Regions from separate parts of the Homo sapiens genome. Here region 2 is linked to region 1. Evidence: fine-mapped QTL for protein levels in blood plasma. A gene starts in region 1. The other region holds a variant in brackets. All regions are shown on one strand. Distances are from middle to middle. Region 1 holds the start of B4GALT2 (beta-1,4-galactosyltransferase 2). Region 2 overlaps ST3GAL3 (ST3 beta-galactoside alpha-2,3-sialyltransferase 3).

Region 1 (2,500 bases):
GTGACTAGATGATATGTGTGGGTGGGGCCGTGCCTCACTTTTATTTATTGCTGGTTTTCCTGGGACAGCTGGAGCTGTGTCCCTTAGCCTTTCAGAGGCTTGGTGTTCAGGGCCCTCCCTGCACTCCCCTCTTGCTGCGTGTTGATTTGGAGGCACTGCAGTCCAGGCCGAGTCCTCAGTGCGGGGAGCAGGCTGCTGCTGCTGACTCTGTGCAGCTGCGCACCTGTGTCCCCCACCTCCACCCTCAACCCATCTTCCTAGTGTTTGTGAAATAAACTTGGTATTTGTCTGGGTCAGTGCAGCTTCTGTTGCCCTCTTGCGTCACCGTTCACAGAGGAAGGGTAAAGAGGCCTGTACGCCTCAGCCTCATGCCAATCCCTTGTCAGCTTTCTGACTGCACACTTCTGATCTGCACAGAGCTTGCTCCTAGGTGGGGAGGCACGGGTGCTGGGTGGACTCTAACCCCCAAACAGACTTGTTTGGGGATGAGGGAGTGTGCAGATAGGGGCCCCTGGGTGTGTTTGTGCCTGTAGTCCTTCTAGGCCCGTTTGCTCAGGGCTCTGACTGACCACCATGCCCGAATTGTCTGACAGCATCTACTTACCTGGTTGTACAGTCGGGCACCATCATCTCCGTCCTTGTGAGGCCTGGAGCCTAGGCAGTGGTCTCTGCCTCCAGTGATGGTCCTGTCCTTCTAGCAGCAGCCCCTCCCAGAAACCTCTACTCTGATCCTTGTTCCCAGGGCCCAGGGCAGCTCCTCCCACCCCATCCAATCTCGTTTTCTCCTTCCCTGACCCTGTTTCCTGTTACCCCAGAAGCCCCAGCCACCTCCAGCCCACGCCTTTAAGGGTCCTGCCCCCTCTCTGCTGGCCGACCTTGAATCTTGGTCCAATTAAAGAGTTGACAAATCCCTAGCCCCGCAGCCTGAGTCCGCCCAACCTCCAGGTCCCCTTCCTGGGGAGTTCGCGCTCCAATGCAATCCCCACTCCCCGCTAAGGGACTCCACGGTCTGCACCCGCTCGCCGGTCCGACCTCTAAGCCCACCCTTTGGACGAGCCTGACCCATTTCCTCCCGCGCTCCCAGGTCCGTGCCTCCTGGGTGCCCGGGTTCGGCCGCCGGCAGGGCGGGCTCGCAGCGGCGCGCGGCGGGTGCGGGCGTGCTGGAGGCGGGGGCCGCGGGGGCGCGCGCGCGGGCGCGCGGGCCGGGCCTGCCCCTCCGAGGCGCCGTAGCGCGGGAGGGAGGCGGCGGCGCTGTGGTCCGTGGGTCCGCCGGTCCGTGGGTCTGCCCGGCCGCCCGGCCCCGCCCTGCCCCCCGGGGCGGCTCGGCTCCATGGCCCGCGGCGGCGGCGGCGGCGGCGGCGGCGGGAGGCGACCCGGGGGCCGCGGTGGCCGCTGACCGGGCGGCGGGAGGCGGCGGGGCCGGGCCATGGGGGACGGAACCGTCCGCAGCCGCCGGAGCCGGGAGCCCTGCCCAAGTCGGAGCGGCGTCCCCTGCTGAGCCCCGAGCGCCGGGTGAGAGGAGGGCGCGCGCGGCCCCCACCCAGGGCCCCGAGATTCCAGACCCAGCCCCGCGAGGGGCACCCCGAGCGCGGCCCCGAGATCCCAACCCAGGAGCCGGTGAGAGAGGCGCCGGCGGCCAGACCCCGGCCTGGCTGCCCCCACCCCGCCCCCACTCCGGCGCCCCTCCTGGGCTTCTCCGCCCGCGTCCAGCCGGCCTCCCTCATTGTCCTCGCTCGCCCCGGCCTCGTGGCGCGGGGAGGCGTTCCATACACGTTTCCCCTTGGCCTTTGCCTCATCCGCTGCCCTCCACCCACTCCCCCTGCCCCCAGGCTCCACACCCACCCGGTCTGTGCGGCCTGCCCGTCCGCGGGTGCCACGTGTTCAGCCTGCCAGCCCCGCCCAAACGCACCCCTCAGCCTGGCCGCCAGCCTGACCCAGAACCCCTGCGCCGGAGGGAGGGTGGGAATGTCTGCACGTGGGTCTGGGTGTGAGCTGTCTGAGAGTCTGGATGTATGGCTGTGGAAGTCCAGGAGCAGTGGCCTTGTTTGTGAGTGTGGGACTTAGTGTGTTACTGTCACCCGGGTGTGTCTGTGACTGTAGTTCTCTGTGTGTCTGAGTGTGGGTGACCAGCTGGGACCAGGGTGTCCCTGTGATTCTGTGTGCCTGTGAGACTCACCCTGCTCCCTGAAGCACTGCCAGAAGTGGCTGCCGCTCTCTTGGAACCACAGCTGGAGCCATCGCCCAGGCAAGACCCCCTTCCTGCCATGCCCAGTGCTGTGCCCATCTCCAGGCCCAAGCATCCCGTTCCGGGAATCAGAACCAGCTGTGCTGGGCAGGACCCAGAGTCTTGGTCCCAGTCCCAAGGGGCTGGCTTTGAGGTCTTAAGTGAGGGGTGTCCCCTGCCTTGCCCCGTATTTTGACGTTTTGCTCCAGTGGGAAGGGATTCTGTAAACATCCAGTCTGTATTTGGGCCCCCCGGATGCTGAGGGCAACTTCCCAG
Region 2 (2,500 bases), 66 kb before region 1:
TTCAGATATTTAGAATTAAATTTTAGACACGTGATATGTGTGTAATACGTCCATTTGTAATTTTGTCCTTGGCCCAACAATGTTAGGGGTTGAACCTACATGGATATGGTGGCAGTGGCTGGAGATGAGGCTAGGTGAGCAGGGGACAGATGGTGAAGGGTCTTAAAAGCCAAAGTCTCATCAAGGAGCCTGGACCTTATCCTGAGGACCAATAATAGCAGAAGCTAACAAGAGCTGACTTTGTGCCAAACATATTATATGCATGACTTCAAACTGTCATAACACAAAAACACTATAAAGGAGAGCTAGTATTACTGCCCTTATTTTATAGGAGAGGATGATGAGACTTAGAAGAGTAAAGAACTTGCTTAGGGGTACAGAGTTAGAGTAGTTGGGGGTGTGAGGGTTCACAATCAGACCTGCACTCTTAATTGTCAACACAAGCTGTTGCAGTGGGCAGTGGAAAGCCACTGAAGATTTTAAGCCTGAGAATGTCGAGATCAGATTTGTGCAGGGATGTGAATAAACTGAAGGGAAAGCAAGAGGGAGTCAGAGAGAGCTGATGGCTGTTAGAGTCACCCCAGGAGAGTTGGTGGTCCGTCCTAAGGCAGTAGCAGCAGGGAGCATAGGCGTGGACACATCTGCCTACTCTTGCTGTGAAAGCCTACCATGGTTAATCTCTATTCCCAGACCTGTGAGCACACCAGGAAACATTCTCTCAGGAGCCTGGTGGGGAAAGTGCTTTCTTCCCAGATGTTTTCCCCATTGCTCCTGGATGTTCTGACAAGAGCAGAACAGGTTGCATCAGCAGGAGTCTGGCAGCTTCACACAGGGGAGCTGGGTCCAGACTTGACTGAGGCAGGGACATTCCTGAAGGAGGAGGGATTTGACAAGGAATGCAGCCCACAGCTGGCCTTGAGGAGAAGCTGGACCATGCCGGGCCAGCAGCACTGGCTGGCTTTGTAGGCCTCTGTTGTGTCCTGTGGATTGGGGAAATGAGATGTGAGAAGCCTTGGGCCAGATGTGGACACTTGCAGGCAGAGGCCTTGTGGAATAGGACTGTGTGCTGGCAGCAGGGCTGGCAGTGTCTCCAGCAGCAGGCAGACCTCCCCACCGGGAGCCAGGGGGAAAGGCTGGCTCTCCCATTCAAATGCATGTACGTGTGCAGGTATGGATATGTGAATGTGTTCCGGCCTCTCCGGTGGCTGATGTTGCTGACCACACCCTCC[G/A]CTTCACTCTCCTGGCCTCTGTGACACTCACTATAATCATAATAAGTAAGATTTATTGAGCTTGCTGTATACCAGACCCCGTGCCAGATGCTGTAAAACGCACAGCATCTCTAATCCTTACAGCTATCTGGGAAGTAGGTCTTCTCAGCCCTATTGTATGCACAAGGAACTTGAGGCTTAAAGAGAGGACACAATGTGCCCCTGGTCACAGAGATGTGGAGCTGGGATTAAGCCTCTGTTTTTCACACTCCCAAAGCTGCAGTGGTACACAGATGTTCTGTGTATGTGCCTGTGGACGTTTTTCTGAGAAGAGGAGTTACAGCTTTTTTTTTTAGGAAACAGGCTGAGGTTTTGTTGGTACTTGATATTTTTGTGGCTGGGGAAACACGGAAATGCCCAAACCATATCTTGGTCTTACTGTTTCTCCTTTCCCTGAAATCTCTGAGGAAACTACACCAGGACAGTGGCAGACAAGAAAGAATAAAAGGAGCGCTGGACTGTCGCTGTGTCGGGCTCCCAGTTCTCCAGTGCAGGGCTCCCTGGGATCGTGACCTAAAACAGGGCTCCTTCCCCAGGGTCCCAACATGACTCTCAGCCGCTGCTGGCCGAGTAAGAACCGAGGGCAGTAAGACCTCAGCGCAGTGAGCCACGAAGGGCAGAGGCAGAGGTGGCCTGCTCCAAGGAGGAGGCCCTGCCCAGCTCACCCACCGCCATGCAGAGGCAGCAACTCAGGAAGGGCTGCCTTTGTGGGAGAGAATTTTCACCTCACACCAGTAATCGTGACACACTCAGTATCCTCAAATCTAAGCAGTCCCATCAGGCATTTCTCCTCCCAGGAAAGAGTAAAGATGAGAAGAGACGTGGCAGCTTTCCCCTCCCCATCAGATCGCCAAGGGGGTTGAGTTAATAAGCGAATTTCCTGCCATTTGAGATGGTGATTAAATCCGGGACTTTTAGCATATGGAACAGACCAAGAGGGATTGTTTCAGAGAGGGCATCTCATGTGCAGAAAAACAGGTTGTGAAGTCAAACGCAGCTCAGATTCTCACCAGCTGTGCGTGTACCCTGACGAGTCCCCTCACCATTCTGGGCCTTAGTCCCCTCTGAAAAATGGGACATGGGCACCAGAGAGACTCCTGAGAGCTCCCTTAGTGCTCTTAGAGGAGACAGGGGAGGTCTCCTTTATCTTTGACCCCTAACCCCTCAGACTTCCAGAGGCGGGAACTGCAGCGATGATACAAATGGTGTGGTGGAAAGAATGCCGTTTTGGA

Evidence for each region. A credible set is the group of variants that fine-mapping cannot tell apart. PIP is the posterior inclusion probability: the model's chance that the variant is causal. Protein levels are from the aptamer-based SomaScan assay of Sun 2018.
Region 2: its variant is the best candidate, but not a certain one, in a credible set for the plasma level of the B4GALT2 protein (Sun 2018, PIP 0.67).

The regions. Positions count from the first base shown.
Region 1 is chr1:43,978,000-43,980,499 of GRCh38, forward strand. B4GALT2 (beta-1,4-galactosyltransferase 2) reads left to right here and starts at 1,211. Exons shown (of 7, transcript NM_003780.5): 1 at 1,211-1,512. It overlaps ATP6V0B (ATPase H+ transporting V0 subunit b), which reads left to right. Exons shown (of 8, transcript NM_004047.5): 8 at 1-296. The coding sequence ends at 8. RefSeq lists enhancers at 1-504, 505-1,095, 1,096-1,687 and silencers at 1,105-1,204, 1,475-1,584.
Region 2 is chr1:43,911,996-43,914,495 of GRCh38, forward strand. All of the region lies in intron 9 of ST3GAL3 (ST3 beta-galactoside alpha-2,3-sialyltransferase 3), which reads left to right. Among named protein-coding and RNA genes, the nearest start is that of ARTN, 21 kb to the right of the region's middle. RefSeq lists an enhancer at 1,722-2,500. The variant G/A (reference allele first, on the strand shown) is at 1,230.